Linked DNA regions of Homo sapiens. The protein of the gene in region 3 interacts with the protein of the main gene of each other region in a pairwise test. Each region holds a gene or a part of one and is shown on either strand. Other genes may lie near its edges. The genes, in order: RBL1, RCHY1 and AOX1.

Region 1 (3,653 bases), on a different chromosome or scaffold from region 3:
GTGGGAGAATTGCTTGAGCCCAGGATGTCGAGACTGCAGTTAGCCTCAATCATGTACTCCAGCCCGGGTGACAAAGCAAGACACTGTCTTACATGAACAAAGAACAAACACCATCCCTCAAGCCTAAATTTAATTAAAAAAAAAAAGTCCTCACTATGAAATCACTTTCGTTCCCAGGATCACCAGGGGAATACAGGTTATTAATTAGTGGTCATCACATAGAGTTTACTGCTATGGAGGGAGCGAGAGCACCTATCTACTTCCTTTATTCTCTATATTACCTAGACAATATTTTGCATAAAATTTACAAAGTTAATGTTAGTTAACAGATTGACAGGTTATAAAATTAGTTTGAGATCACCTGAGATCGGGAGTTCAAGACACAGCCTGAGCAACATGAAGAAACCCCGTCTCTACTACAAATACAAAATTAGGAGCTCTCCCTCTCCCTCTCCCCACGGTCTCCCTCTCCCTCTCTTTCCACGGTCTCCCTCTCATGCTGAGCCGAAGCTGGACTGTACTGCTGCCATCTCGGCTCACTGCAACCTCCCTGCCTGATTCTCCTGACTCAGCCTGCCGAGTGCCTGCGATTGCAGGCTCGGGCCGCCACGCCTGACTGGTTTTGGTGGAGACGGGGTTTCGCTGTGTTGGCCAGGCCGGTCTCCAGCCCCTAACCGCAAGTGATCCGCCAGCCTCGGCCTCCCGAGGTGCCGGGATTGCAGACGGAGTCTGGTTCACTCAGTGCTCAATGGTGCCCAGGCTGGAGTGCAGTGGCGTGATCTCGGCTCGCTACAACCTCCACCTCCCAGCCGCCTGCCTTGGCCTCCCAAAGTGCCAAGATTGCAGCCTCTGCCCAGCTGCCACCCCGTCTGGGAAGTGAGGAGCGTCTCTGCCTGGCCGCCCATCGTCTGGGATGTGAGGAGCCCCTCTGCCTGGCTGCCCAGTCTGGAAAGTGAGGAGCGTCTCCGCCCGGCCGCCATCCCACCTAGGAAGTGAGGAGCACCTCTTCCTCGCCGCCATCCCATCTAGGAAGTGAGGAGCGTCTCTGCCCAGCCGCCCATCGTCTGAGATGTGGGGAGCGCCTCTGCCCCGCCACCCCGTCTGGGATGTGAGGAGCACCTCTGCCCGGCTGCGACCCCGTCTGGGAGGTGAGGAGCATCTCTGCCCGGCCGCCCCGTCTGAGAAGTGAGGAGACCCTCTGCCCGGCAACCGCCCCGTCTGAGAAGTGAGGAGCCCCTCCGCCCGGCAGCCGCCCCGTCTGAGAAGTGAGGAGCCTCTCCGCCCGACAGCCACCCAGTCTGGGAAGTGAGGAGCGTCTCCGCCTGGCAGCCACCCAGTCCGGGAGGGAGGTGGGGGGGGTCAGCCCCCCGCCAGGCCAGCACCCCCATCCGGGAGGGAGGTGGGGGGGTCAGCCCCCTGCCAGGCCAGCCGCCCTGTCCGGGAGGGAGGTGGGGGGGTCAGCCCCCCGCCCGGCCAGCCGCCCCGTCCAGGAGGTGAGGGGCGCCTCTGCCCAGCTGCCCCTACTGGGAAGTGAGGAGCCCCTCTGCCCGGCCACCACCCCGTCTGGGAGGTGTGCCCAACAGCTCATTGAGAACGGGCCAGGATGACAATGGCGGCTTTGTGGAATAGAAGGGCGGGAAAGGTGGGGAAAAGATTGAGAAATCGAATGGTTGCCGTGTCTGTGTAGAAAGAAGTAGACATGGGAGACTTTTCATTTTGTTCTGTACTAAGAAAACTTCTTCTGCCGTGGGATCCTGTTGATCTGTGACCTTACCCCCAACCCTGTGCTCTCTGAAACAAGTGCTGTGTCCACTCAGGGTTAAATGGATTAAGGGCGGTGCAAGATGTGCTTTGTTAAACAGATGCTTGAAGGCAGCATGCTCCTTAAGAGTCATCACCACTCCCTAATCGCAAGTTCCCAGGGACACAAACACCGCGGAAGGCCGCAGGGTCCTCTGCCTAGGAAAACCAGAGACCTTTGTTCACTTGTTTATCTGCTGACCTTCCCTCCACTATTGTCCTATGACCCTGCCAAATCCCCCTCTGTGAGAAACACCCGAGAATTATCAATAAAAAATAAATAAATTTAAAAAAAAAAACATAAAATAAAATAAAATTAGTTTGAGGGAAAACAGAAGTCTCCCAAATGGAAAGACAATTCCATTTTCCAAATGGGAATTTGATTACAAAGCACCAGATTGTTACAGGTTAGGAGTAAAATTCAAGAGTTTGAGTTCCAATGTGTGGTTCCACAACCAAAAGTAAAGAAGGTAGCACATACTCAGAAAAAAACTTAATAGTTCTGGTGCCCAGGTTGGAGTGCAGTGGCACCACCTTGGTTTACTGCAACTTCCACCTCCTGTGTTCAAGCAAGCCACCGTGCCCAGGCCAATTCTGGGTACATTTTTTTATGTCCCTATGTTAACGTGGTCTTAGATAGAAAACTTGTCATGTCAAAGCTCACTTAATTAAAGGTCTAGCAATATATACAGAATAATACTTGTAATTTTTTTTTTTTGAGATGGAGTCTCAGTCTGTCACCCAGGCTGGAGTGCAGTGGCATGATCTTGGCTCACTGCAACCTCTGCATCCCAGCTTCAAGCAATTTTCCTGCCTCTACCTCCTGACAGCTGGGACTACAGGTGCACACCACCATGCCTAGCTAATTTTTGTATTTTTAGTAGAGACAAGGTTTCACCATGTTTGCCAGGATGGTCTTGAACTCCTGACCTCAGATGATCCACCTGCCTCGGCCTCCCAAAGTGCTGGGATTACAGGCATGAACCACTGCACTCGGCCCTATGTTCTGATTATTTCATGTAGATTGGAAAGGCTTACTTGAGTCCATTTCGCCTGGCCAATACTTATAATTTCTTTTTAAGGTGACAGAAGACATTAATAGCAAATCATCCAAAGCTATTTAATGTGGTTTGGATGTTTTGTCCCCTCCAAATCTCATGTTGCAATGTAATTTCCTTGGCTGGGCATGGTAGCTCATGCCTGTAATCCCAACACTTTGGGAGGGTGAGGCTGGAGGATCACCTGAGCCCACCAGTTTGAGACCAGCTTGGGCAACACAGTGAGATCTCGTCTCTACAAAAAATTTAAAAGTTAGCAAAGCATGGTGGTGTGTGACTGTGGGCCCAGCTACTCAGGAAGCTGAGGCAGGAGGATCACTTGAGCCTGAGGGGTTGAAGCTGCAGTGAGTCATGAACATGCTACTGCCTGGGCAAGAGAGTGAAAGCCCGTCTCAAAAAAATAAAAAAGAAACGTGACCTCCAATGTTGGAGGTGGGCCTAGTGGGAGGTGTTTGGGTCATGGGAGCAGATCCCTCATGAATGGCTTGGTGCTCTCCTCATGGTAGTGAGTTTAGTTGTCACTCACCTGAGATCTGGCTGTTTAAAAGTGTGGCACTTCCCACCCTCAATTGCTCCTGCTCTCATCATGTGATGTGCCTCCTCCCCCTTCACCTACCGTGACTGTAAACTTCCTGAGGCCCTCACCAGGAGCAGATGCCAGCCCCATGCTTCCTATACGGCCTGCAGAACCCTGGGCCAAATAAATCTCTTTTTTTAAATAAGTCACCCAACCTCAGGTATTCCTTCATAGCAACGTAAAACGTCCTAATACAGCATTCAAACTCTGGACATGCT
Region 2 (3,653 bases), on a different chromosome or scaffold from region 3:
TCAGCCTACTCAACATGAAGAAGGATGAAGACCTTTATGATGATCCATTTCCACTTAATGAACAGTTAACATATTTTCTCCTTATGATTGTCCTAATATTTTTCTCTAGTTTATCCTAAGAATATAGTATATAATACATATAACATACAAAATATGTATTAATTGGCTATTTGTGTTATTGATAAGACTTCCAGTCAGTAGCAGGCTATTAGTAGTTAAGTTGTGGGGAGTTGAAAGTTATACTCAGATTTTCAACTGAGCTGGCACTTGGTGCCCTTAACCCCCAACATTGTTCAAGGGTCAAAAGCAGTTACAGAGGACACTGACATATTTGAGCACACATTATCTTCAACTTGGAATACATGGAATTAAAATTTGGGTTTGCAGTGTTCAAATTCTTAGTAAAATTTCCAGTGAAGTTAATTTTCACTATCCTTTATTCTTTCGTCTGCACATTATTCACAAAAGGGCTTTAAAATATTTTTTAAAGTAAAAAGAATCCATTATACTTAAATGGTAAATGGCGATGACTAATTTTTCTAGTATATTCAGGGTTATCATAATACTGAAAACACTGCCAAAGATATACTGCCTACACATTACTGTGCACCTACTGTATATACGGCAGCGGTCACCAACCTTTCTGGCACCAGGGACTGGTTTCATGGAAGACAATTTTTCCATGGACCGAGGTTGGGGGATGGTTTCGGGATGAAACTGTTCCACCTCAGATAATCAGGTATTAGATTCTCATAAGGAGTACACAACCTAGATCCCTTGAATGCACAGTTCACAATAGGGTTTGTGCTCCTATGAGAATCTAATGCTACTACTGATGTGACAGGAGGCAGAGCTCAGACAGTAATGGTCGATCACCCACCACTCACCCTGCACTGGGCGCAGCTCAGTTCCTAACAGGCCATGCACCAGAATCCGCACCCCAAGCACTGGGGACCCTGATATAAGGCACTCCCAGGTATAGAAATTTAAAATATGAAAATACCATGATCTCATGAAGTTTAATATTTACCATGTAGCATGAGATGTGTACTTTGCAGTAACAATAACTTGAATGTCAATAAATCAACCAATAAAAGAGGGTATGATTTTCTTGGTTGTGTGTGGTAATTAGAAGCTATGTGTAGATATGATATACAAAATAACACTACAAAAGTGAAAATGAATTAGAGTTAATCAAATAGGATGAATCTTAGAAACAGAGCTCAGTAAAAAAACAAAAAGAAAAAAAGGCCATATATATGATTTTTAAAATAAGCAAAATGAAACATATATTGTAACTTCTACTTCCACAATGACGAAATAGCTTCTATAGGACTAAAACTCCTACTGAGAACTAGAAAAACTCAATTTAAAGAAAACAAACAAGCTGTTTAAAAGTAGTAAAGAGCAACTGAGTGCTTGAAGGGCAAAGATCTCAGAGAGAAAGCAAATATACTGAGGCAAAGTCAATAGTCTCTACTTCTTTCTTCCTTGGGAGATTTTTAGACCCTAAACTGTGCTGTGACAAGCTAAGAAACTAAACAGAGAGCAACAGGTAAGAGCCTAAGAAACTAAGTAAACCCTCTGAAAGTACTCCTATGCTAGGGGGCCAAAATTTGGAGTCCAGATTCCACCACGAAAGAGATGGGCCTGGTAAACAACCCTAGCTTTAAGTCAAGATCTCCAAGGGACTATGTCCTAGGAGCATAAGAATAAAGGGAGGAAAAAAAAAAAATAGAACAGGACATACAAAAAAAAAAAAAACAAAAATTAGTCTCTAATCATATCAATGCTAAATTGGATTAAGGTTATCCATCCCTACATTAACTGCCTTCTGAAAGAAAATTAAATTCTCTCTGAAAAAAAAATAGCATCGAGAGCTTAATAAATTTTTACATATTATGTCCAACAATCAACTAAAAAAAAAAATCAAGCATGTCAAAAGGCAGAACCAAACACCAAGGGAGAAAAAACAGAAAACAAAATTTACCCATAGATAATCAAGATATTGGAGTTATTAGGCACAGTCCTTTAAATCATCTGTGATCAATACATTCAAAGAAAAAAAAGGTAAAGAATTTCACCTGACAACTAGAAAATAACAAGAATGAAGATAAAATATAAATTTTATAACTTAAATAAATAGATAACTTGGTAGGCTTAAAAGCAGATTCAATGCAGCAGAAGAGAGACCTGGAAGTTAATCTGTGGAAAGTATCCAATTTAAGCATAAAGAAAATCAAAGTAGGAGAAATACAGGAAAAAAAAAAAGAGACATGGGATGTAGTAAAAAGATCTATGGGATGGAGTCTCAGAAGAGGTGGGAAAACGGTACAGAAACATTATCTGAAGAGAAACTGGCCAAAAATATTTCAAAATTGACAGAAGACATCAAGCCACAGATTCAACAAATGCTACAAACCCCAAGCCAGATAAATATTACACTCAATCAAACCTGGACACACGGAAAAAATACTAACAACCAATGACTTAAAAAACAGCGAGAGGAGGATAAAAGACATTTTAACTTCAAAGAAGCAATAATAATCCTGAGAAATGATATTTTTAAACAGAAACCATGGAATCAGAATATCTTTAAAGTGTTGGGAGGTCAGGGGAACCAATACCTGTAAACTTAGAATTCTACACCCAGCAAAAATATTCAAAAATGGAGGCAAAAAAAAGACATTTTTCAGAGACAAAAAAAACTGAGAGAATGTATCATCAGCAGGACCTCACTAAAAGAAACACTAAAGACAATTCTTTAAGCAGAAGAAAAGTAACTCCAAAGATAATGCTGGAGACCTACAGGAAAGAAGGGCAATAGAAACGGTAAATATATAACAACAATAGCATATAAAGACTCTTAGTGTTTAAGGTCCTAATATTGTCCAAGAAGTGATAAACATATTATTCTAGTAAGCCAATGATGTATGTTATAATTTCTAGGATAACCACTAAGAAAATAATTGAAAAATGTATAACTAACAAGCCTATAGAGAATAAAAGCAAATAGGAAAGCAACAGATTAATCCAAAGAAGACAAGAAAGGAGAGGAAAAAAGACAAATACTAAGGCAATAGAAACTACCAAAACTGTAGATTGAAACACGAACATATCCTAACTACCTTAATAAAAAACGAACTATATACTCCAATTAAAAGACAGTTTTATCAAACTGGATTGAAAAATTAAAATTCAACTATATGCTGTTTTACAAGACACATGACTTAAATGTAAGTATACAAAAATGTCTAAATGGAAAAGGATATACATGCAAAAACTCATCGAAAGAAAGCTGATATAGATACAGTAGAGCCTAGGGCAGGAAACATTACTAAAGATAAAAAGACACATTATATAATAATAAATGGGTCAATCATACAGGAAAATGTAATAATTTTAAGTATGTGACCGCTGAAAGACATGGCCTTAAAACATACAAAACAAAACACAAAAGAGCATATACTATATGATTCCATTCATTAAAAACTTCCAAAAGTCAGCATACTGGTTACCTTTGGGGAAGTGTATTAATTTGGAGGGGGCACACAGGAAGCTATGAAGGTGCTATGAATGTTGTGTTTCTTGATCTGGGTAGTGGTTACAAAGGCATGTTCATTTGTTAAAATTCATAAAATCATTTGCTTATA
Region 3 (3,653 bases):
CACCTGTAAAAGGGGAATATTAGAACCCAACTCACAGAATGATCTAGAGAAATAAATGACAACTCATATAAAATCCACAGTCCAGGAGTAACTGACCCTCATTTACTCACTAATAAATGTCCTCACTAGGACATTTATTGCATGCCAAGATCTGCTTTTAGCACCTTATATGTATTCACTCATTTAATCCTCTCAACTGCCCTGTGAGGTAGGTATGATCACCCATCTTTGACAGCTAGGGAACCAAAGTACCAATATAATTAAGTAAGCTGACTGAGAGCATGGAGGAGTTAACAGAGGGTAAACTGAGATTTTGGCCAGTCTGCCTTTCTCAAGTTTTAAAGCTCATGCTTTTAATCACTATGCTTTGTTATGGCAGCTGATACCAAGTAATGCTCAAGAAATATTAGCTATTAGTGTCATCTTTAGATATAGGAAGTCAGGTAAGCAAATGCCTTTAACAATTTATTATAGAACAAACTCACATAATTGGTTTTTCATCATGGCAAATTATTCTCCCAAAATAAAGAATACAAATTTGCACTGTTGAGGGAGGGCTTCTCTGTCTGTCTGTCTCTCTCTCTCTCTCTCACACACACACACACACACACACACGCACACAGAGTATATAATTCCCACTTCAGAATTCACTAACATCAAGACATATGGAAATAATAACAAAATCTTATTGGAATTCCCAGCCATTAAATAGAAAGGTATGGAACACTTTTCTTCTTGTAATCACATCTCACCACAAAAAGGGCTCCTCTAATACTTGGAGTCTAAGGACAAGTATTAGAGGAGCCCTTACTTCTAATGCCTTACCTTCCAATGAGTTTCTGGCAGGAATTCTTGGCACAGATGGTGGCTGGACCAACGCCTCCATATGAGATGCATAACTCTCTAATAATGCCATCCCCTTCTCCAAAAAAGACTCTCATTCCTGAATTGACTATCGCTAGCGCATTCTCCTGTCGCTGGGCTTGTCGGAAGGCTGACACAAATTCCCACTGAAAGAAACAGTTAAGTGGCACATGTAGAAACACTGAGCATCACCTATGCACTGGGCAGTCTGTGTGTCTTGAGTATCACCTACACACCGGGCAGTCTGTGTGTGTTGAGTGTCACCTACACACCAGGTAGTGTGTGTGTGTTGAGCATCACCTACGTGCTGGACGGTATGTGTATGTTGAGTATCACATTGATATCAGATATGCAGCCCCCAGCATCTCCAGAAAATCATTCTCCGTTGTTGAGGCCACCCAGTGTGTGGTTCTTTGTTATGGTAGCCCTAGCAAACTAATACATCCTCTGAGGCAGGCTTGATTATTCCCATTTTACAGATGAGGAATCCAAGGCGCAGAAGGATTCAGTAATTAGTTCAGGCCTTGAAACCAGGATTCAAACCTGACTCTATCTCATGCAAAGCCTCATGTTTTTTCCAATAAGTTCTATTGCAAATGTATTTTTAGGCTTTTTTCAAAACCCAAGATATAGGTAGAGGCATACTCTTCATGTCATATTTAGGGAGAAAGGCTTATGGGACAAAAACCTTTTAGAAAGTTACTTTAGAGCTTGGGGTAGGGGGAGAAAGAGCGAGAATGGCAGAGATAAGTCTGGGAGTGGTGGCTCACACCTGTAATCCCAGTACTTTGGGAGGCCGAGGCAGGTGAATCACCTGAGGTCAGGAATTCCAGACCAGCTTGGCCAACTTGGCGAAACCCCGTCTCTACTAAAAATGCAAAAATTAGCTGGGCATGGTGGTGCGCACCTGTAATCCCAGCTACTCGGGAGGCTGAGGCAGGAGGATCGCTTGAACCTGGGAGGCAGAGATTGCAGTGAGCCCAGATCATGCCACTGCACTCCAGTGTGGGCAAAAGAGCGAGACTCGATCTCAAAAAAAAAAAAAAATCTCCTAATTCGAGGAATGATAGGGGCATGCGTAATACAAGGAAAAGGCAACTATTCACAAGTCTTAAAATAATGACCTCATACCACTTCCTGAAGTTGAGCCTTTATCTCCCACATAAACACTTCACCCTTTTTCTTATTCCACCATATACTGGAATAAACAAGCCATAGCATCACAGGTGCAACTGGGAAATTGACAGTGGGATGTTCTCACCTTCCTTGAGTAGGGGATGTTCACTGAGACCAAGATTTCTTGAGGCTTAAGATCTGCATTAGGGCACTTGCTGAGGAATTGCTCATTTAAAGGAATCTGTCGTTTTCCTTCTGTGGAAAGAAATGACACTTTCCCTGGGATCTGTTTGGTCTGTTAAATAAACTTCCAAAACTTAGGAAGTAATTCTACCAAATACCTGAGGAAACCGGTTGTTCAGGGAAACAGGTGCTCTTCCTATGCTTCGCAAATCTTTTACCCTATAATGCGTCTTGCAATGTTTCTTCTAGTCTAGGCCCCATCTCTTTTTGTTTTCCTTGCTTTCTCATCGATAAAAACATCGACTGGGCGTGGTGGTTCACACCTGTAATCCTAGTGTTTTGGGAGGCCAAGGCAGGTGGATCATTTGAGGTTAGGAGTTTGAGACCGGCCTGGCCAACATGGTGAAACCTCTCTCTGCTAAAAATACAAAAAAATTAGCTGGGCATGGTTGTGCGCACCTGTAGTCCCAGCTACTCAGGAAGCTGAGGCAGGAAAATCACTTGAACCCGGGAGGGAGAGGTTGCAGTGAGCTGAGATCATGCCACTGCACTCCAGCCTGGATGACAAAGTGAGACTCCATCTAAAAAATTTTTTTAAAAATAAAAAATAGATTTAAAAAATAGATGAAAAGATCTCACAGAGTAGCCCAGAGTTTCAGGTAGAATAGAACCTTAGCAGTCCTCTTCCTGACAACACAATTCACTTAAAACTTTACAAGTAGGGAGTAAATATTAATATCTCTTTTGATATTCTGATCAAGTCAGCCAACAAATATTTATTGTTTATAACCAGGAACCCCACTAGATACAGTCATGAATAAGAAATTATCTTTAATAAATTTGTATACTACTGAGATGTTATCTTACTTTTTTATATCTTGTTCCAACACCTGAAGAATTTTAGTTCTTTAATTAATATATAAGGAAGAGGAACAGTTTAAAACTATAACAAAATACTGAAAGCTAAGAAGCTTTTGATGTCTATATTCACATCACAAACCTGTTTCTCATAGTATGACTTTTAGGGGATGTTACTCAAATTGAAAACCCTGAATGCAAATCTTCCTCTTTAAGATAGTTTTGTGACCAAGCACTGTGGCTCATGCCTGTAATCCCAACACTTTGGGAGGCAGAGGCGGGTGGATCACCCGAGGTCAGGAGTTCGAGACCAGCCTGGCCAACATAGTGAAACCACATCTCTATTAAAAATACAAAAATTAGCTGGGCATGGTGGCACATGCCTGCAGTCCTAGCTACTCAGGAGGCCAAGGCAGGAGAATCGCTTGAACCCAGGAGGTAGAGGTTGCAGTGAGCTGAGATTGTGCCACTGCACTCCAGACTGGGTGACAGAGCGAGACTCCATTTCAAAAAAAAAAAAAGATAGTTTTATGGTTTAAATGGTATGAAGAGTAAGTATTTAACAATGCAGATGATAGAAAACTAGTCCATATTTTTTAACGAAAAAAAACCCCACAAATTTACAGAGGACC

The links.
Region 1: the proteins of AOX1 (region 3) and RBL1 interact in a two-hybrid assay, tested with the Homo sapiens proteins (one large-scale study listed by BioGRID and IntAct).
Region 2: the proteins of AOX1 (region 3) and RCHY1 interact in a two-hybrid assay, tested with the Homo sapiens proteins (one large-scale study listed by BioGRID and IntAct).

What each region holds. Positions count from the first base shown.
Region 1 is NC_000020.11:37,068,396-37,072,048, forward strand, and holds part of RBL1 (retinoblastoma-like protein 1), read right to left. Parts: intron 1-3,653. UniProt on the Homo sapiens protein: Key regulator of entry into cell division. Directly involved in heterochromatin formation by maintaining overall chromatin structure and, in particular, that of constitutive heterochromatin by stabilizing histone methylation.
Region 2 is NC_000004.12:75,504,381-75,508,033, forward strand, and holds part of RCHY1 (RING finger and CHY zinc finger domain-containing protein 1), read right to left. Parts: intron 1-3,653. UniProt on the Homo sapiens protein: E3 ubiquitin-protein ligase that mediates ubiquitination of target proteins, including p53/TP53, TP73, HDAC1 and CDKN1B. Mediates ubiquitination and degradation of p53/TP53; preferentially acts on tetrameric p53/TP53.
Region 3 is NC_000002.12:200,609,966-200,613,618, reverse strand, and holds part of AOX1 (aldehyde oxidase), read right to left. Parts: intron 2,236-3,653; coding exon 2,126-2,235; intron 1,011-2,125; coding exon 826-1,010; intron 1-825. UniProt on the Homo sapiens protein: Oxidase with broad substrate specificity, oxidizing aromatic azaheterocycles, such as N1-methylnicotinamide, N-methylphthalazinium and phthalazine, as well as aldehydes, such as benzaldehyde, retinal, pyridoxal, and vanillin.